4 separate regions of the Homo sapiens genome follow, and all the other regions are linked to region 4. Evidence: fine-mapped expression QTL. A gene starts in region 4. Each other region holds a variant in brackets. All regions are shown on one strand. Distances are between the middles of the regions.

What was found. PIP is the estimated chance that this variant, and not a neighbour inherited with it, causes the effect.
Region 1: its variant is the best candidate, but not a certain one, in a credible set for the expression of ZNF544 in whole blood (INTERVAL, PIP 0.85).
Region 2: its variant is the best candidate, but not a certain one, in a credible set for the expression of ZNF544 in cerebellar hemisphere (GTEx, PIP 0.82).
Region 3: its variant is the best candidate, but not a certain one, in a credible set for the expression of ZNF544 in tibial artery (GTEx, PIP 0.79).

What each region holds. Positions count from the first base shown.
Region 1 is chr19:58,253,641-58,259,064 of GRCh38, forward strand. The region is part of intron 6 of ZNF544 (zinc finger protein 544); the gene reads left to right. ZNF8-DT (ZNF8 divergent transcript) reads right to left here. Exons shown (of 3, transcript NR_187495.1): 3 at 3,633-5,424. Among named protein-coding and RNA genes, the nearest start is that of ZNF8-DT, 22 kb to the right of the region's middle. The variant G/A (reference allele first, on the strand shown) is at 3,171.
Region 2 is chr19:58,444,214-58,449,637 of GRCh38, forward strand. It overlaps ZNF132-DT (ZNF132 divergent transcript), which reads left to right. Exons shown (of 1, transcript NR_186311.1): 1 at 1-288. It also overlaps a transcript of ZNF324B not described here and the pseudogene LOC100419848. Among named protein-coding and RNA genes, the nearest start is that of ZNF324B, 4.7 kb to the right of the region's middle. The variant T/C (reference allele first, on the strand shown) is at 2,966.
Region 3 is chr19:58,265,955-58,271,378 of GRCh38, forward strand. All of the region lies in intron 1 of ZNF8-DT (ZNF8 divergent transcript), which reads right to left. It also overlaps a transcript of ZNF544 not described here. Among named protein-coding and RNA genes, the nearest start is that of ZNF8-DT, 10 kb to the right of the region's middle. The variant G/C (reference allele first, on the strand shown) is at 2,769.
Region 4 is chr19:58,226,249-58,231,672 of GRCh38, forward strand. It overlaps ZNF544 (zinc finger protein 544), which reads left to right and starts at 2,666. Exons shown (of 7, transcript NM_014480.4): 1 at 2,666-2,698; 2 at 3,220-3,322; 3 at 4,146-4,214. RefSeq lists an enhancer at 2,542-3,368.

The DNA.
Region 1 (5,424 bases), 27 kb after region 4:
TGTTAGCCAAGCTGGTCTCGAACTCCTGACCTCGGGTGATCTGCCCACCTTGGCCTCCCAAAGTGCTGGGATTGCAGGCACTAGCCACCATGCCCGGCCAAACTAGTCTCATTTGTCAAAGAAAGCATACAAACCAGGACCATTTTTTGTTTTGGCTGGGTTAATACCTTTATAACCTTCTGTGCCAAACACTGACACCTTAAAATATCTTGCAAAGACAAATATAAAACCATATATGTTGACAATTCTGAAGACATTTCTATTTTCATTTTACCAATAATTTTAAAGCCAACTTCTTTAGTAAAGATTTACTTAAGTCGGCTGGGTGCGGTGGCTCACGCCTGTAATCCCAGGCAGGCGGATCACGAGGTCAGGAGATCAAGACCATCCTGGCTAACATGGTGAAACCCCATCTCTACTAAAAATACAAAAAATTAGCCAGGCCTGGTGGCGGGCACCTGTAGTCCCAGCTACTTGAGAGGCTGAGGCAGGAGAATGGCGTGAACCCGGGAGGCATAGCTTGCAGTAAGCTGATATCACGACACTGCACTCCAGCCTGGGTGACAGAACGAGACTCCATCTCAAAAAAAAAAAGGAACAGCAGCACAAATGCCTGGATACATGCAACTCCATCTCACTTTCCCATTCAACAGCAAACTCCAGATTCCAAACAATGTTGGGGCCAAACAGTATTGCAAAAGAATATCAAGTGTTTCCTCCTTAGATTATCAGGGTCAAATTTATTCCAGTCGTTGAGGATGCAGCCAAGCAGGGAGTCAGATGGAATAGATGGAGTGTTTCCTATTATTGTCTGTAAGAGAGAAAATCCTAGGGAGGGTGTAGTACTATTCCTCAGAACCTCAGCCTAGGGTGTCCCCTTTGGAGAGGTTGAGGTCTGGAGTTGGATCCCCTAGAGGATCCCCCTTTGGGGTCCAATCTTAGAGTGTCAGACATCTCTGACTTTAGGTGGGCACCAGTGCTGCTTTATATGTTTTCCCTCCAGTGGCGATGGTCTACTGTGAGCTTTCCTTTGGTTCCTGGGCGTAATCCCAGACTTTTAGTATCCCACTAATTTCAGTGTGATGTATCTTCCTGCATTCCTCACAGGACTAAGGAGGTTCTGAAACATTGCAGAGTTAATAGTACCAAGGTTGGTGGGGTATTCTCTGTGAAGGAAGGATCCAGCGGTATGTGAAAGACTGAGATTGAGAATTTCTTTCTTTCTTTTTTTTTTTTTTTTCTTGAGACAGAGTTTTTCTTTTTTTGAGATGGAGTCTCACTCTGTCGCCCAGGCTGGAGTGCAGTGGCGCGATCTCGGCTCACTGCAAGCTCCGCCTCCCGGGTTCACGCCATTCTCCTGCCTCAGCCTCCTGAGTAGCTGGGACTACAGGCGCCCGCCACCACGCACGGCTAATTTTTTGTACTTTTTAGTAGAGATGGGGTTTCACCATGTTAGCCAGGATGGTCTCGATCTCCTGACCTCGTGATCTACCCGCCTCAGCCTCCCAAAGTGCTGGGATTACAGGTGTGAGCCACAGCGCCCAGCCTTAGACGGAGTTTTGGTCTTGTTGCCCAGGCTGGCTGGAGTGCAGTGGCATGATCTCGGGTCACTGCAACCTCCGCCTCCCGAGTTCAAGCAGTTCTCCTGCCTCAGCCTCCTGAGTAGCTGGGGATTACAGGCGTGTGCCACCATGCCCAGCCAATTTTTTTGTATTTTTAGTAGAGCTGTGGTTTCACCATGTTGGCCAGGCTGGTCTCAAACTCCTGACCTCAGGTGATCCACCCGCCTTGGCCTCCCAAAGTGCAGAGATTACAGGTGTGAGCCACTGCACCTGGCTGGGGTTGAGAATTTCTGTGAGATTCAGGGAAAGCAAATTGATGCAGAAGCAATGACCGTCAACCTATGGGATCCCCTCAGTGAAGTCTGAGATGTAGAATGTCTACTGAAGCTTGTGGATCCCAAAGGTCTTCAGACAGTCAAATCGAGTAAGAGAAGGTAAGTCAAATGCATGAGATACATTATCTTTTGCCCTTACAGGCTGACTTTAAGGAGAATTTTGCATAAGAAAAGAGGATTTAAGTCACCTGAAATATGCGTGAGTTCGCCCTGGATGAGCTGCCGCTGCCAGTTGCATCACAGATAGGGATCAGGGACTGTAACTGGAAAATAGAGAAAAGAGTCTTTTCCCCTTCTGGGCAGGGCAGCTATCCCCATTTACGCCTTGGCCTTCAGGCAACACCAGAGGGTGGCCCTGGCCAGCTGCCCTCAGTTACCAAGGAACTAGTAGGAAACGGCAGCTGAAAGATTTTCTGAAAAAGAGAAAAAGGAAAAGGACTAAGGTCCTTCACCCGAACTGGGTGGTAGCGGTCAGGCACTTCCACACAGAAATCTTTCCGTTTCACCAGAGAGTGGCTCCGGCCAGAAACTTACAGTTGCTTGCATGCTTATGTGCTGTCCACCAAGGATCCGTAAGTTGGAAAGGGAAAAAGAGAGAGAGAAAAGGATTCCCCTATATGGAAAAGGGAAAACAAAAAGAGAAAAGAAAGAAATCCCAAACCTCGAGCCTACCTCCTGGCTGGCTCACCAAAATATGTTACCAGTGGAGGGTGTCTATGTTCTTGGCATTGTGTTCTTTTACTTTTTTTTTTTTGAGATGGAGTCTTGTTGTACCCAAGCGAGTTAAAAATACGCCACACTTTGAGACGAATTAAGAGTCCTTAATTAAGCCGGCGGCCAAAGAGACGGCTAATGCTCAAAATTCTCTCGGCCTCGAGGAAGGGGCTTGATTAACTTTTATACCTAGGTTTAGGAAGGGGAGAGGGACTCAAATGCAATAAGTCTACAGAAGTAAAAACATGCAAGAATCAACAGAAGCAAAATGGTTACAGAGAGATAAACAACTTAAACGGTTACAAGAAGAGCAACGGTACCACGTGCAAGGTTCTAAATCTTTCATTATAATTAGATATATAGGGTCTATGCCGGACACAAACTCAAGGTTTTCTGTTGTTATCTCTTTGAGAAAAATCCTGGGAACTTCATACATTGTTGGTGTTAGTGCCTTATCAGTTAATTGGGCTCTTTTGAAATGCTGAGGATCTGTTTACCCAGGCCAACTCCTTAGGAAAGGGGGTTGGGTAAGGAGCCCTTAGTGTCTTGTAAATTAAGG[G/A]GTCAATTGGAGTTTGTCCGGCCTTCCCAGCTAGAGAGAGTCTTATTTACATGAGAAGCAAGGCTAGGTGATTAAAGAGACAAGCAGGACAAAATTCAAAGTAACCAGTTAGAGTAAAAACAAGCTTAGGCATTTCAGTCTCACTCTGTTGCCCAAGCTGGAGTGCAGTGGCACGATCTCTGCTCACTGCAAGCTCCGCCTCCCAGGTTCACGCCATTCTCCTGCCTGAGCCTCCTGAGTAGGTGGGACTACAGGCACCCACCACCACGCCCGTCTAATTTTTTGTATTTTTATTAGAGACGGGTTTTCACCATGTTAGCCAGTATGGTCTCGATCTCCTGACCTCGTGATCCACCCGCCTCGGCCTCCCAAAGTGCTGGGATTACAGGCATGAGCCACCACGCCTGGCTGGTTCTTGGCATTTTTAACAAAGAATTGGACGAAACACACAAAGCAACAAAAGAAGCAACAAAAGCATAGCTGTATTGAAACAAAAATGCACTTCACAGAGTGGGAGCAGGCCCAAGCAAGGCTCAAAAGCACTGGTCGCAGAATTTTCTGGGGTTTAAATACCCTCTAGATGTTTCCCATTGGTCACTTGGTTTACACCCTATGAAATAGTGGCCCATGACCAGTCTGATTGGTTGTGGAAGGTGACCAAGCAGAGGCTGAAGTGAAGTTACAAAGTTACGCTCTATGCAGATGTCTGACTGGTTGCAGGAGGGGACCAATCCGAGGCACTTTCCATTTTTCATCTGCAACACAGAAAGTTGGGGGGAGTTGCAAAGGGAGTAGCCTCTGATCCTTTTGTTACGTGGGCATGGAAATTTAGGGTTTTCCTTTTGATTCCGTTCATGAAGTCAGCATGAATCAGCCTTAGGCTCCCTGCCCCCAGACCCTATTCTCCTGCCTCACTGGCAACCACTGATCTTTATCCTGTCTCCATAGTTTTGCCTTTTTCAGAATGTCATAGTTGGGGTCATTCACTACGTAGCCTTTTCCGACTGGCTGCTTTCACTAAGCAACATGCATCGTGTGTATCTTCATACCACCCTCTCACGTTTCCCCCAGGCTGGAGATGTTGAGTTTATCTGAATTTTTCTCGTGTCTTCCTGCTCCTCCTTCCTTGTAACTCTCTCGCCTGCAGCCTCTGTTATTTCTTCCTCTGAAGGTGCACCCAGGCTTACTTATCTACCCTCCTCCCTGGGCCATGCCCTGCACACCATACCTCAGTCATGTCATCCTGGATTCTGTTTACTGTCAGTCTTTCTGTTTGGCATAGGCATCCCTCTTGGCTGGCCTGTGAGGACAGCCCCTTTCCTCATTTCATGCTCCTAATGGAGAAGCCACTGCAAGATATTTAATGTCCTTCACCTGATTTTCCATGGCCACGCAAAACCTGGACACAACTCAGCCACCCACTGACTTCTTTCCTGCTTCTCATCCTCAAATACCCTTCATTGGGCTGTTGTTTCTTTTGAAAACATCCTCCCATGAGGGATTCCACAGTGATTCCCCAGAGGAACCACAGAGTTGGGATGAGGACAGTGCAAGTGTGAGAGTGCTGGGTGTGAGGGCACTGGGTGTGAGGGCACCAGGTGTGAGGGTGCTGGTTGCGAGGGCACCAGGTGTGAGGGTGCTGGGTGCGAGGGCACCAGGTGTGAGGGTGCTGGGTGCGAGGGCACCAGGTGTGAGGGTGCTGGGTGTGAGGGCACCAGGTGTGAGGGTGCTGGGTGTGAGGGCACCAGGTGTGAGGGTGCTGGGTGTGAGGGTGCTGGGTGTGAGGGCACCACGTGTGAGAGTGCTGGGTGTGAGGGCACCAGGTGTGAGGGTGCTGGGTGCATGCAAGGATCTTGCCCAGGAGGGAAGAGAGCTTTTGATTGAGAGGAGGGAAACATCCTCTCAGAAGTCAAGGGATGGCCACAGAGTGTAGTTAATGTGTTGCCAAAGGATCCTTGTGTCCTCATGAGCTCAGAGAGTGAGGCATGAGAACTTGAGGTAGGCCGCAGTAGTGTTGACCGTGGTGGCCATGCAAACATAATGAACAGAGTGACAAGCAGAGTGGAGGATCTTTAGGACCTGGACAAGGATCCTGAGCTGGGAGCCTCTGCCACTCATTTTTAGAGGCTCCGTATCTTCAACAGAGAGGAATCCCCACCAGGACAATAACAAGGATGGCAAGATCAACCATATTTTGTAATATCAGTGCCAGACACTGTGTGAGGCTCACATAGTGATTCATTGATGCCTCAAA
Region 2 (5,424 bases), 220 kb after region 4:
TTCCCTGGATGGCTTCCTCTCTGTCTTCCAAGATTCACTCTTTCCCCTTCTCCCGTCCTCCCCTCCAGTGGCCAGGTCTTCTACCATTGGCCTCCCTTTAATGTGTCTTGAACGGATAATGTATCTTTAAATAGTTGTTATCTGCACATGGTGGCTCATAACTACAGTCCCAACTACTTGGGATGCTGAGGCAGGAGGAGCGCTTGAGACCAGGAGTTTGAGTCCAGCTTGGGCAACATAACGAGATCCTATCTCTAAAATAAATAAATAAATACATAGATACCTAAATAGTTTTTGAAAACCTCTTCTTCCGTGAGACTGGCTTGTTCCATTTGAGGAGTATGGGCATAGGTGTCAATGGTTCAAGACCTGGACTTCGCTCACTGCATGGTACTGACCTGTCACCAGACACTAGGGCCCTGCAGCTCCACATTTTGCAGAACCTACAGAGAACTGACACTGAAGAGATAGCTGATAAATACACAGCATATGGAAAGGTGTTTGAGGGGAAGCAAGCCTTTTCTCCTACCAAAAAACTTCACAGTGGAAAAAATTGCAAGTGTATTATGAGCATGGGAAGGCCTTCACTTTTGTCTTCATCCTGAGAAAGCAGGAGTACATGCACATCTTCAAAGGCCCTTACAAGTATAGTAACATGGGGAATCCTCCAGCCAGAACTCTACCTCCTTTGAGCACCAATATGTTCACCCCAGAGAAAGTCCCCATAAGCGCAAGGAGTGTGGTCCAGCCATGAGCAAAATTTTGCAAAACTCTCCTCTGTATCAAAATGGTCATACCCTAATGAAGGACTCCTAAGTTCAGGGAATGTGGGGCACTGCCAGCTGTCCTGGTGGCTTCCCTGGTACCTGACTTGAGGTTCATACATGTTATATTCAGAGTTCTGCTTTCATTAGCAAAAACAAATTAACACCGGAAAATGGTTGTACAAATGCAATAACTACATGAAAGCTTTCAGTGAAATATGAAACCTCATCCTGCAGAATTCTCATCAGAGAGGCCCAGTGCATGCAGCTAATGTTGGAAAGCCTATTCTCAATTTTAATCCTATTTAGCACCAGCAATTTACAGCATTGTGAGTGTAGCATGTAGGAGAGCAAAAAATTGCAGCTCCTGCCTTGATGTGCACAAAGTGATTCACACTGGAAAAACCCTCTATGAGTGCAGCCAGCATGGGAGAGCATCGGCCACAGCTCCTGCCTTGCTTGGCACCAGAAACTTCACCCTGGAGAAAAGCCTTTTGATTATAGTAAATGTAGGAAAGTCTTCACCTCCCTTATTTAGTATAAAAGAATTCACACTGGCCAGGTGTGGTGGCTCATGCCTGTAATCCCAGCACTTTGGGAGGCTAAGGCAGGGGGATCACCTGAGGTCAGGAGTTTGAGACCAACCTGGCTAACATGGCAAACCCCCTCTTTACAAAAAATACAAAAATCAGCTGGGCATGGTAACGCCCATCTGTAATCCCAGCTACACCAGAGGCTGAGGCAGGAGAATTGCTTGACCTCAGGGGGCAGAGGTTGCAGTGAGCTGAGTTAGAGCCACTGCACCCCAGACTGGGTGACAGAGCAAGACCCTGTCTCCCTCACCAAAAACAAACAAACAAACAAACAAAAAACACAGCTGGGTGCAGTGGCTCACGCCTGTAATCCCAGCACTTTGGGAGGCCGAGGCAGGCAGATCATTTGAGGTCAGGAGTTTGAGACCAGCCTGGCCAACATGATGAAACCCTGTCTCTACTAAAAACAGAAAAATTAGCCGGGCATGGTGGCAGGCACCTGTAATCCCAGTTACTCAGGAGGCTGAGGCAGGAGAATCACTTGATCCTGGAAGGCGGAGATTGCAGTGAGCCAAGATCATGCCACTGCACTCCAACCTGGGCAACAGAGTGAAACTCCATCTCAAAAAACAAACAAACAAAACAAAACCCAGCCCTACATGAGTAGCCTTCAGCCACAGCTAAACCTTGTGTAGAAGGATTCCTCCCTGAGGAGACACTCCATGATGGCCCTGCATGTGGAGAAGCTGACAGAACCCATGTTGTACCATGATCGCCCTGCATGTGGAGAAGCTGACAGAACCCATGTTGTACTTTGCAACCCGCTGAGGGACCTTGGCAGAGCTATCACACCACTGGGTCCTGTGGTGGAAGCCCATCTCTGTTTTATGGTGACTTCCCAGTTGCTCAATGTAAGTCACTCCCTGTTTCCTGTTTATACTACCTTGGAGGGATGGTAGGGGCCTTGCACACATTGGGGTGGTATCATGCTCACTCATGATGGGGTTTGACATGGACATGACCCCATTCCAAGCAAGGAGCCTGATTGGATAATTTCTTTCTCTTTTTTTTTTTTTTTTTTTTTTGAGATGGAGTCTTTCTCTGTCACCAGGCTGGAGTGCAGTGGTGCGATCTCAGCTCACTGCAACCTCCGCCTCCCGGGTTCAAGAGATTCCCCTGCCTCAGCCTCCCAAGTAGCTGGAATTACAGCCACACACCACCTCGCCCGGCTAATTTTTTGTATTTTAGTAGAGACAGGGTTTCACCATGTTGGCCAAGATGGTCTCGATCTCCTGACCTCGTGATCCCCCCACCTCGGCCTCCCAAAGTGCTGGGATTACAGGCATGAGCCACTGCACCCGACCTCTCTCCTTTTGTCTTTTCTTTTTTCTTTTCTTTTCTTCTTTCCTTTCCTTTCCTTTGCTTTCCTTTCCTTTTCTTTCTTTTCTCGTCCTTTCTTTTCTTTTCTCTCTTTCTTTTTTTTGAGGCAGAGTCTCACTCTGGTGCTCAGGCTGGAGTGCAGTGGCATGATCTCAGCTCACTGCAACCTCTGCCTCCCGGTTTCAAGCAATTCTTCTGTCTCAGCCTCCCAAATAGCTGGACTTACAGGCGTGTGCCACCATGCCTGGCTAATTTTTGTATTTTTACTAGAGACGGAGTTTCACCATA[T/C]ATTGGCCAGGCTGGTCTCAAACTCCTGACCTCAAGTGATCTGCCTGCCTCGGCCTCCCAAAGTGCTGGGATTACTGGCGTGAGCCACCATGCCTGGCCGACAATGCAGGAGCTTAACCAAAGGACCACGTTGGCTAGGGTCAATCAGCTGCCCCAGGTGACCACCCTTAGTGCTAATCCTGTGCAGGGTAGGGGTCTGAGCCAAAAAGAGGAGGCTCTTGTGTGTACAGAAGGCAATTTGTTGCTATTTTTATTTCATGCCCAATTCATTAAGAATGTTTCAAACAATTAGCATTTTTCTAAGTATTAAGTAATTAACATTTGCCTGAAGAATTACACATTAGATGGATAATGTAAAAATAAAGTGTTTAAGAAGTTAAACGTCTCCAAACATTAAACATTACTTGAGATTGGACATGATGGGTCATGACTGTAATCCTAGCAGTTTGGGAGGCTGAGGCAGGTGGATTGCTTGAGTACAGGAGTTCGAGACCAACCTGAGAAACATGGTGAAACCTCGTTTCTACAAAAAAAGTAAATAAAATTAGCCAGGTGATATGGTTTGGCTGTGTCCCCACCCAAATCTCATCTTGAATTGTAACTCTCATAATTCCCACACGTTGTGGGAGGGACCCAGTGGGAGATAAGTGAGTCATGGGGGCAGTTTCCCCACACTGTTCTCGTGGTAGTGAATAAGTCTCAAGAGACCTGATGGTTTTATAAGGGGTTTCCTCTTTTGCTTGGCTCTCATTTGCTCTTACCTGCCACCATGTAAGACAGGGCTTTCACCTTCTGCCATGATTGTGAGGCCTCCCAGCCACATGGAACTGTGAGTCCATTAAACCTCTTTGTCTTCATAAATTACCCAGTCTCAAGTATGTCCTTATCAGCAATGTGAAAACAGATGAATATAGTAAATTGGTAGAGTGGGGTACTGCTATAAAGATACCCGAAAATGTGGAGGCAACTTTGGAATTGGGTAACAGGCAGAGGTTGGAACAGTTTGGAAGCCTCAGAAGGAGATAGGAAAATGTGGGAATGTTTGGAACTTCCTAGAGACTTGTTGAATGGCTTTGACCAAAATGCTGATAATGATATGGGCAATGAACTCCAGGCTGAGGTAGTCTCAAATGGAGATGAAGTTGTTGGGAACTGGAGTAAAGGTGATGCTTGCTATGTTTTAGCAAAGAGACTGGTGGCATTTTGCCCCTGCTGTAGAGATTTGTGGAACTTTGGATTTGAGGGAGATGACTTAAAGTATCTGGTCCGGGTGCAGTGGCTCACGCCTGTAATCCCAGCACTTTGGGAGGCTGAGGCAGGTGGATCATGAGGTCAGGAGATCAAGACCATCCTGGCTAACATGGTGAAACCCCGTCTCTACTAAAAAAATACAAAGAAATTAGCCTGGCATGATGGCGGGTGCCTGTAGTCCCAGCTACTCAGGAGGCTGAGGCAGGAGACTGGCATGAACCTAGGAGGCGGAGCTTGCAGTGAGCCAAGATTGCAACACTGCCCTGCAGCCTGGGTGACAGAGCAAGACTCCATCTCAAAAAAAATAAAAATAAAAATAAAGTATCTGGTGGAAGAAATTTCTAAGCAGCAAAGCATTCAAGAGGTGACTTTGATATTATTAAAAGCATTCAGTTTTAAAAGGGAAATACAGCATAAAAGTTCAGAAAATTTGCAGCCTGACCATGCAACAGAAAAGAAAAACACATTTTCTGTGGAGAAATTCAAGAAATTTGCATAAGTAACCAGGAGTCAAATGTTAATCGCCCGGACAATGGGGAAAATATCTCCAGGACATGTCAGAGACCTTTGTGGCAGCCCTTCCCATCACAGGCCCAGAGGCCTAGGAGGAAAAAATGGTTTCGTGGGCTCCCCCTGCTGTGTGCAGCCTACAGACTTGGTGCCCTGCATCCCAGCTGCTTGAACTATGGCTAAAAGGAGCCAAGGTACAGCTTAGGCTGTGGCTTCAGAGGGTGCAAGCCTCAAGCCTTGGCAGCTCCCATGTGGTGTTGAGCCTGTGGGTGCACAGAACTCAAGAACTGAGGTTTGGGAACCTCCACCTAGATTTCAGAAGATGTATGGAAATGCCCAGATTTGGAGCAGGCAAAAGTTTGCTGCAGGGGCAGGGCCCTCATGGAGAACCTCTGGTAGGGCAGTGCTGAAGGGAAATGTGGGGTTGAAGACCCCACACTGAGTCCCCACTGGGGTACTGCCTAGTGGAGCTGTGAGAAGGGGGCCACCATCCTCCAGACTCCAGAATGGTAGATACAACCAACAGCTTGGACCACGCACCCGGAAAAGTCACAGACACTCAACACCAGCCCATGAAAGCAGCTGGGAGGGAGGCTGTACCCTGCAAAGCCACAGAGCTGCAGCTGCCCAAGACCATGGGAACCCACTGCTTGTATCAGTGTGACCTGGATGTGAGACATGGAGTCAGAGGAGATTAT
Region 3 (5,424 bases), 40 kb after region 4:
AGCACTTTGGAAGGCCGAGGCAGGCAGATCCCTTGAGGTTAGGAGTTCGAGACCAGCCTGGCCAACATGGTGAAATCCCATCTCTACTAAAAGTACAAAAAATTAGCCAGGTGTCATGGCATGTGCCTGTAATCCCAGCTACTCGGGAGGCTGAGGCAGGAAAATCACTTGAACCCAGAAGGTGGAGGTTGCAGTGAGCCGAGACTGCGCCGTTGAACTCCAGCCTGGGCAAAAAAGCGAAAAGCGAGACTCTGTCTCAAAAAAAAAAAAAAAAAAAAAAAGGGCTGTGTGCGGTGGCTCACGCCTGTGATCCCGACACTTTGGGAGGCCAAGGAGGGTGGATCACGAGGTCAGATCAAGACCATCCTGGCTAACACAGTGAAACCCCGTCTCTACTGAAAATACAAAAAATCAGCCAGGTGTGGTGGCAGGTGCCTGTAGTCCCAGCTACGAGGGAGGCTGAGGCAGGAGAATGGCATGAACCCAGGAGGCAGAGCTTGCAGTGAGCCAAAATCATGCCACTGCACTCCAGCCTGGGCGACAGAGTGAGACTCGGTCTCAAAAAAAAAAAAAAAAAAAAAAAAAGATGGAAGTATAGCCAATAGCGAAACATACAGAATGAGGAAGGCTGGAGAGGGTCAGGCGAGGAGAGGCTGTGGCAGCAGATGTGGCAGCCCCAGCAGAGCCATAGACTGATAGACCAGAAAGTGGGTTAATCGAAGGTCTGTCCATGAAACTCAGACTCTTCCCCATTTTTTTTTCTTGCCTGGCATTACCTATCTGGCTGTGGGTAGCAAAAATTAAAGTAGGGAAGGAGTCATGTGCTAAAAGATTAGTTCAGGGGACAAGGGAATCTGATGTATTTTGCTCTGCAGCAAGGGCTGCTTTATTCTGGCATTTCAGAACTTTTTACCTGATAGCTGGTTCTCGCCCTCTTCACCCTCGAGCAAAGCGTACTGTTAAAGCAGCCCCGCCTGTCTGTGGAGCTTCCTGTCTGCTTTCTGATAGTCTCTTCAATATGGGTGGGAGGCAAGGAGCAAAAGATAAAGTCTCCATCATGAGAGAAGGTATCTAAGACAGCAGAAAAGACAGATATTCAGAGGAACCAAATATTCTTTGTTTTTTGAGACGGAGTCTCATTCTGTTGCTCAGGCTGTAGTGCAGTGGCACGATCTCGGCTCACTGCAACCTTTGCCTCCCAGGTTCAAGCAATTCTCCTGCCGCAATGTCCCAAGTAGCTGGGATTACAGGCACGTGCCACCATGCCAAGCTATTTTTTGTATTTTCAGTAGACACGGGGTTTCACCATGTTGACCAGGCTGGTCTCAAACTCCTGACCTCAAGTAATCCACCCACCTTGGCCTCCCAAAGTGCTGGGATTACAGGTGTGAGCCACCGCACCCAGCAGAATCAAATATTTAAAGCATTTTGTTAACGTAAAAGTGAGTCAAGAAAGGGTTACAAGGCCGGGTGTGGTGGCTCATGCCTGTAATCCCAGTACTTTGGGAGGCCGAGGCGGTCGGATCGTGGGGTCAGGAGGTCGAGACCAGCCTGATCAACATGGTGAAACCCCATATCTACTAAAAATACAATACAAACATTAGCTGAGTGTGGTGGTGGGCGCCTGTAATCCCAGCTACTTGGGAGGCTGAGGCAGAGGTTGCAGTGAGCCGAGATCATGCCATTGCACTCCAGCCTGGGTGACAGAGCGAGACTCCATCTAAAAAAAAAAAAAAAAAAAAAAAAGGTCTGGTGCGGTGGCTCACGCCTGTAATCCCAGCACTTCGGGAGGCCGAGGCAAGCGTATCACGAGGTCAGGAGATCGAGATCATCCTGGCTAACAGGTGAAACCCCGTCCCTACTAAAAATACAAAAAATTAGCTGGGCATGGTGGCGGGCACCTGTAGTCCCAGCTACTCGGGAGGCTGAGGCAGGAGAATGGCGTGAACTCAGGAGAAGGAGCTTGCAGTGAGCCGAGATCACGCCACTGCACTCCATCCTGAGCAACAGAGCGAGACTGCGTTTCAAAAAAAAAAAGAGGGTTACCAGTAAAAAATAAGACAGACTGGGCGTAGTGGCTCACGCCTATAATCCCAACACTTTGGGAGGCCGAGGCGGGCGGATCACCTGAGGTTGGGAGTTTGAGATCAGCCTGACCAACATGGAGAAACCCTGTTTCTACTAAAAATACAAAATTAGCCGGGCATGGTGGTGCATGCCTGTAATCCCAGCTACTCAGGAGTCTGAGGCAGGAGAATCGCTTGAACCTGGGAGGTGGAGATTGCAGTGAGCCGAGGTCTAGTGCCATTACACTCCAGCCTGGGCAACAAGAGTGAAACTCCGTCTCAGAAAAAATAAATAAAAATAAAAAATAAGATACTTTGATAAAATAGAACAATGAGAACCAGAACAGGCTCTTTGAAATTACAAGTAAGATTGTTCAATGTTATAGATACAATGTTTAGTGAGAAACAGAATGCTTGTTGCCTGGTGCTGCAAAGAAATAGCACTCAAAACATAAATTTAATTCTCTCAGCAAGGCCGTTTTTACTTTCTGCAGAAAGGGTGCTCATCACAGATGGAACAATGGCAAGAGCACACCTGAACAAAGGAGGGAAGCAATTTTTATTCCTTAGGCAGTTTGTCCCTGCTACTGTGTCCTGTCTCCGTTGGCTGGAGCCAGCCTGCACAATCTAAACTAAAACTAGATTAGCTAACAGTTTAAAACTTTTCTAAATAGGTAAAAGTAGTGGAAAGACGAAGGAAAA[G/C]AGGAAGTTGCTTATGCCAGATATGGAAGGAGCATAGGCTGTAAGCTGGAACGTGACCATGAGCATGTCCAGCACAAATAACTTGGTTAAGGTACAGGGACATAGAACGTACTACGTGCCTGTGAGCATGTTTACCAGCTACATAGGATAGGGCCTAACAAAGACTTACTAGCACAAAGCAAGGAGGTTTCAAGGAAGTTAGTTTATAAAAGAAACTATTATTTTTTAACACTTATGATTTATTCTTTAACAAGAAGGGAAACTTTGAAGAGGAACTTTTACTTTCCACATTGAACAAATAAGTAAGAAAAAGAAAGGGAAACTTCCCCAGGGCTGAAAGGAAATTTTCAGGTCATGCCATTATTATCAGAATTAATAAGACCCATGCATCGTGGAAAACTGAGAACACCACGACTAAAAACAGATGGCAGGCTGGGCGTGGTGGCTCACGCCTGTAATCCCAGCTCTTTGGGAGGCTGAGGCAGGCAGATCACCTGAAGTCAAGAGTTTGAGACCAGCCTGGCCGACATTGTGAAACCTCATCTCTAATAAAAATTCAAAAATTAGCCAGGCATGGTGGCAGCCGCCTATAATCCCAGCTATTCAGGAGGCTGAGGCAGGAGAATCGCTTGAACTCGAGAGGTAGAGGTTGCAGTGAGCTAAGATTGTGCCACTGCACTCCAGCCTTGGGCGACAAAGCGAGACTCTGTCTCAAAAAAAAACAAACAAAAAAAATGTCAGGGTCGGGCATGGTGGCTCACACCTGTAATCCCAGCTACTTGGGAGGCTGAGGTAGGAGAATTGCTTGAACCCAGGAGGTGGAGGTTGCAGTGAGCTAAGATTGTGCCACTGCACTCCAGCGTGGGCGACAAAGCGAGACTCTGTCTCAAAAAAAAAAAAAAAAAAAAAGATGGCAGGGCTGGCATGGTGGCTCACGCCTGTAATCCCAGCACTTTGGGAGACCGAGGCAGGTGGATCACTCTAGGTTAGGAGTTTGAGACCAGCCTGGCCAAGATGGTGAAACCCTGTCTCTACTAAAGATACAAAAATTAGCCAAGTGTGGTGATAAATGCCTGCAATCCCAGCTACTCAGGAGGCTGACGCAGGAGTATCACTTGAACCTGGGAGGCAGAGGTTGCAATGAGTCTAGATCATGCCACTGGACTCCAGCCTGGGCGACAGAATGAGACTCTGTCTCAAAACAGAGCAAATGGCATGGCAGAACCTTCTCTAGAGAAAATAGTTTTGAATCTAAGAAAGGAATAGCTTTAATCTAGAAAAGGAATAGGGCAAGAAAAGGAATGTTTATTCACCCATAACTTAAAAAAAAAGGTAATTTTAATTGAAGGCTTCAAGGTAAATTGTGCTCAAACTATACAAATTCTGCTAGATGGTTATAGTTCCTATGTGAAGGTAACTTTAGAAAGTAGTGTTCACTTGACACTGATGTGAGTAATTCTTGCTGGAGGGGGCAAAAAGCTCATGAAATTTGAATAAAGGAGGAGGAGATGCAGTCAGATTGTTGATTGACCCTTCAGGGAATGGCATTTGCATAGCTGTGACGTGAACCCTAGGTATTGGCTTTTTTTTTCTTTTTTTTTGAGAAGGAGTCTCTGTTGCCCAGTCTGGAGTGCAGTGGCGCGATCTTGGCTCACTGTAACCTCCGCCTCCCGGGTTCAAGCAATTCTCCTGCCTCAGCCTCCTGAGTAGCTGGGATTACAGGCACGTGCCACCACGCCCAGCTAATTTTTGTATTTTTAGTAGACACAGGGTTTCACCATGTTGGTCAGGATGGTCTCCAACTCCTCACCTTGTGATCCGCCCACCTTGGCATCCCAAAGTGCTGGGATTACAGGGATGAGCCATTGCACCCGGCCTGTATTGGCTTTTAATTTTTAGGAAGTAACACATGGCTGTGACCTGACAACTTCATAGTGGCCGTAGGGTAGGGCACTGTTGTCATTATTCCTGTCACTGACAATGTCAGCCCCACCTGCAGATGTGGGAGAGTAGATGGGGAAAGTAGTAGTGGAGAGTAGAGGTTTCCCTTACCATCCTTTTAGGAAGTAGGCTTTTAAACATGATATGTAAGTTTATTTAGAAGATGAAAATTAAAGCTTGAAATGTAATATGAGAGGAATTGGCAGCGGATGTGAGTCAGATCCTCACCTGTCAGAGCAGGAAGTTAGTGAAAACTAAAGATGATTGGCTGGATGCGGTGGCTTATGCCTGTAATCCCAGCACTTTGGGAGGCTGAGGTGGGTGGATCACCTGAGGTCAGGAGTTTGAGACCAGCCTGGCCAACATGGTGAAACTCTGTCTCTACTAAAAATACAAAGATTAGCCCAGCGTGGTGGTGGGCACCTGTAATCCCAGCTACTCAGGAGGCTGAGGCAGGAGAATCGTTTGAACCCAGGAAGTGGAGGTTGCAGTGAGCTGAGATTGCATCACTGTGCTCCAGCCTGGGCAACAGAGTCAGACTCCGTCTCCAGGAAAAAAAAAAAAAAAAAGACTAAAGATGATCAAAGATTAGAATTACGGAGGTGTCCTCAAGAAGAATTGGAACAGATATGGTTAAAAGTGGCTGGAGGTGGGTGCAGTGGATATGGTGGTGCACACCTGTAATCCCAGTGCTTTGGGAGGCTGAGGCAGGTGG
Region 4 (5,424 bases):
CAGCCATAACTTTTAAAAGATTTTCTTCCCTTTTATTTAGACATCAAGGTAAAAGTAACTTTTTTTTTTTTTTTTTTTGAGTCAGAGGCAGGCTGGAGGAGTGCAGTGGCACCATCTCGGCTCACTGCAACCTCCACCTCCTGGGCTCAAGCCATTCTCCTGTCTCAGCCTCCTGAGTAGCTGGGATTACAGGTGCCCACCACCACACCTGGCTAGTTTTTGTATTTTTAGTAGAGACAGGGTTTCGCCATGTTGGCCAGGCTGACCTTGCACTCATGACCTCAGGTGATTCACCTGTCTCAGCCTCCCAAAGTGCTGGAATTACAGGCATAAGCCACTGTGCCCAGCCAAAGGTAACATTTTTAATGTAACAATATATGGTCATTCTTTGCTCTTATGACACAATCCTACAAAAGGCGATCACTAAGCTTAAGCACTAAGCCTAAAACTGAATAATATAAACACTGATGTAGGGAAAGTTGTTCCTCAGACGACTCCATTATTGATACAGACATGGAAACAGTAAACAGAAATGTAACATCAAAGTTCTTATTTACTTGAACTTTTTTTTTTTTTGAGACGGAGTCTCCCTCTGTTGCCCAGGCTAGAGTGCAGTGGCGTGATCTTGGCTCACTGCAAGCTCCGCCTCCTGGGTTCAGGGCCATTCTCCTGCCTCAGCCTCCCAAGGAGCTGGGACTACAGGCTCCCGCCACCACGCCCGGCTAATTTTTTGTATTTTTTGTAGAGACGGGGTTTCACCATGTTAACCAGGATGGTCTCGATCTCCTGACTTCGTGATCGGCCTGCCTCAGCCTCCCAAAGTGCTGGGATTACAGGCGTGAGCCACCACTCCTGGCCTGAAATTTTCTATAATAAAAACAAACAAGATCATTTATTATCTCATAATGAAAAGTCCCTGAGGTGAGCATAGGCAATGTTGATTCAGTGGCACAAAGAGGATTCATTCCATCATGGATACTGGTTCTTTCCATTTTTCTGCTGTGCCATTCTCAGCATGTTGCCTTTACCTCCTGGGGTGGCTTCCTCATGGTGCCAGTGTGCTTGTAATTGTCCTACACATCACATACAGACATCACGGTCCAGGGGCAAAAGAAGACACATTGCTATCTTATGTCCACTTTTAAGACTGAGGGAACCGGCCGGGAGCGGTGGCTCATGCCTGTAATGCCAGCACTTTGGGAGGCCGAGGCGGGTGGATCATGAGGTCAGGAGATCGAGACCATCCTGGCTAACAGGGAGAAACACCGTCTCTACTAAAAAAGAAAAATTACAAAAAATTAGCCGGGCGTGGTGGCGGGCGCCTGTAGTCCCAGCTACTCGGGAGGCTGAGGCAGGAGAAAGGCGTGAACCCGGAAGGCGGAGAGTGCCGTGGGCCTAGATCGTACCACTGCACTCCAGCCTGGTGGACAGAGCGAGACTCCGTCTCACAAAAAAAAAAAAAAAAAAAAAAAAAAAAAAAGACTGAGGGAACCTTCCCAGGAAACCCCTAGCAGCCTTATTTCTCCTTGGCCAGAATATCCTTGCCTAATTCACACAGCAAGAAGCTTGAGTCCATTCTGATTAGCTTAGAATCCATCAAGATCCTCCCTTAGGGAGTTAGATTCTAGATTTCCCGGAAGAATCTAAAAATTGCAGGGTCGTGCTAGCCAGGTATGAAAATAAGCAAGTAAAAAGATGATGACTGTTGGGTAAAGCTATCGACAAGGTCAGCTACAAAACAGTCAAGCCAAGGAAGGCTAGTCACAGATGCACCCCAGACACAAAAGCACAGTCCAGGAGCTGAGGGTGCCTGAGCCACAGTGGTTCCCGCCTACCTGGCCTTCGTAGGAAAGTTTCCTGTGGTCTCCCTCATTGAAGAGCCAGGACGGGTCAGGCGGTGGTGGGTCTCAGACATTGAGCCCCACAACGCACTGAGACTGAACATCAGACCATTTATAATAACAGAACTCTGTCCCACAACTTCTGCAGCAATAGGTACAAAACAGAACTTGGTCACTGCCAGCCTCCCTATTTTTTTCCCTGTCCCACTTAGGAGCTACCACAGAAAGCCAAATAGGCTCGACTGAGCGATCACCTAGGACGAATCGCCTCCAGTTAGCGTGCTTCCACCTTCCACTCGGAATGCTCCAAGCAGGGCACTCCCGGGGCTTTGTTTCTATCACTAGGACGCGTCCCCACGCCCAGGCTGTCCCTGAGTCCCTGCCACAGGCGCAGATGTTGGCGGGCGCCCTTGCCCCTGAGCTCCCGGTTAACGGCCTTGGACTGTTCTCATGGCTCAGTCTTGGTCTCTCTCCCCAGCAGGGCAAGGCGCCGGGAAGGCACCCGAGATGACAGCGCCGAGCCCCATAGGCGCTAGTCCCGCCCTGGACGCCGACCGCCGCCTCCACAGTCTCGGCTTCGGTTGCTGGATGAGAACCAGCGTGGCCCGTTTAAGGGGGAGGGGACAGGCGCTGCAAGGAGCAGAGCCGCGGGAAGCAACTCCCTAAGCCACAATGCTAGTCGCGAACACAGGAAAAAGCTCATCCCGCCGCCGCGGGGCCCCATGCTCCCGCCGGCAATGACTATGCCTGTGGGAGCAACGGCTACCGGCGCGCGGCCTTCTGGGAGTTGTTTGTTGCGCGGAGCGCGGGCACGTCCGCCGGCCACCGGAAGCACCGCCATTGGCCGGTGCGTGCAGGTGAGTCTGGCGGCCTCAAGGTTGGCTCGGAGGTTTCACTGTTAGCCGGGTGCGGCCGGAGCGCAGGACCAGGCCAGAGCCGCCCCAAGTGATCTGGGCGTGCCGGAGAAACGAGCAGGGCCTGCGGGGGTCCCTCATGCGGCGAGGCCGAGCAAGGGCAGGGGCCTGATGGGATCGGGATCTCTCCGGCCTCAGGGACGGGGAAGGCCGGTCCAGTCAGGTTTCCCCTGCAGGAGCGCCCGGCTGGGTCTGAGCTTGTCGGGAGGCTCTCCTGCTGCAGAGCTGGGAGGGAACTTATAGTACCTCGCAGGTACGGGCAGGGGTGGAACTGGGTGGGACTGGGTGGGACTGGGTGGGACTGGGTGGGACTGGGTGGGCCCTCCCGACAGAGGGTGCCTGGGTCGAGGGCTGCAGGGGCGGGGGATTCAGGCTGGCGTCTGGAGCTCTGGGGCTGCCGACCCAGCGGGCCTCTCCCGGCTCCTTTTTCCTCCCTCAACTCATCTTCTGCGGCTTATCCACAGGTGGCAGCCAAGAGCCTCCTGGCACAGCGGCACCAGGCAGGTGACGCCTATTGGACCCCAGAGGTCATCCCAGCTCCAGACGTGGACACATTTTCTTCCAATGGTACGTGAAGCTTGAACCTTGCAGAGAACATGTGTATTTTCCAAGTGAACAGAAGATTAAGGCCAGTCCACGCAGGGCAGGGGTAACTGGGGTGTTGGGGGCCTGCACTGGTTAAGCGATGCTGGTGCACCCCATAGAGAGACTACAGAGGTGAACAGGATGGGATGTGTATGTAACGCCTGTAAGTTAGGGATCGGGGTTCCATTTGTGTTGGGTGATATTTGATGGGGACCGTACAAGGCAGTGCTAATGAGGAAGGCATGGGGTTGGATTTCAAGAGTCTAAGGGAGTAGGGAAACATCTGATTGTGGAAATGACTCCGTGTAAGGAGGGATGCCAAAAGACAGGAAGGAGTGGAGGAAGACTGTGTTTCTGTTTCCAGCGTGGAGCCAGGGTAGAAGTCACAGTGCAAGGAAGATGTGGTATGCCTGGTCAGTCTCTGCATGGGAGTTGAGGAGCATGTGGGTGACATGGCTGAATGTGGAGGAGGGAATGGCAGTGGCAGGAAGCCCAGGAGGTTTGGGCTGGACACGTAACCTGGAGCAGATTGGAAACGTCACCCCACAAGCAGGGAAGGAGAAAACTGGAAAAGGAAAGAGAAAGCAACTCCCTCCCCAGCCCTGCAGCCAGAGGGACTTCTGCCAGATCAGCCACCATACAGGTCCAGTATGAGGAACAGATGGGGAATTTTATGTCCAAGTATAATCACTATGAATACATGTGTTGTGCCCCTTTTGCAGGTTAACACAATGTTAAGCTCTGTAAATGCAACTCAATTAATTCTTTTAGCATCCTCACAAGGCAGGTCTTGCTGTTTTTCCAGATGTCTACGGATGAGGAAACTGAGGCCTGGAGAGGTTAAAGAGACCCGTTCAGAGTCCTACAGTGGCAGGTAATGGAGCCAGTACTTTGACAGCAGGTTGCAAAGTGAGTGTTCTCAGCCGTTGCCCTTGGATGCCTCCAGACAAGGAAGGACAGGGTTAGAGAGCAAAGATGGACACAGGCAGTGAGAGATTCCCCAGGGAAGGCCAGGAGCATCAGGACAAGATAGTAACACATAAGATATTGGGCAGACCTCTTGGATGTGGTCTACATTTGTGTTTGTGTGTGTGTTTGGGAGTGAGAGAGCAGAGCAGGATGGGCAAGATGAGGAGGGGGAAACTGAGAGTGTTGGTCACTCTGTTCAGGCCTCACCTGAGAGGAGAAGAGGCAGGGGGTGGGGCACTGGGATATGGATTCATCTTGACCAGGGAGAAGACATCTCAGCTCAGAATTTGAAGGGAGCTACTAATGAGTGCAGGCCTGCAGGAGTTTGTGTGCCAGGAGGTTGAAAGAGTCCAGAGTCATCCCTTGGAGTGAATTAAAAGGCCGATTTGTCTGCACAGAGAGGACAGTGGTGGGAGGGGACTGAAGTAGGGTGTGAGAGCATGAGCTCGCAGCTGTAAGGGGATAGTGACTGAGTGGATACTGGTGTTCCTGAACTCCTATACCACCCAGAACTCAGAAACTAGCAGGGTTGGGCAGAGAGGGCAGTCAAGGGCATAGGCAGATTGCACAGAACAAACAGATCAGAGAGGCCAAGAGGTGGGCCTCAGGCCAAGGATGTTAAGAAAAAGAACAGGGGCATTGGGCTGGGCTGGGGTGGGGTGTACCAGACGGGGAGGCTGGGAGCCTGAGTGGTAGTGTGCTTAGGGCCATGAGCTATGGAGCTCCCACCTTCTCACTCCCCAGCCACGAGGCCTCAGTTAAATTTTACTCAAGTTCTTTCTGCCTTGGTTTCCTCATTTAGAAAGCAGGGTAAATTCTGTTAATTGTCTTTGTGGGGTTACAAGGAAGATCAAATGCATGAATTCAGGCAGAGGACAGGGTACAGTGCCTGGCCTGTAGGAAGTACAGCCTGAGTGGTCAGTGGATTTTGAAAGGTAGGAAGGCCTGGGGCATTTGCTAGGGAAGGAAGCTGAGATCATAGGCCCCGGTGTGTTTTAATTCATGTCTTTATTATTTATTTTTTTATAAATGGGGTCTCACATGTTGCCCAGGCTTGTCTCGAACTTCTAGCCTCAAGAGAGCCTCCTGCCTTGGCCTCACAAAGTGCTGGGATT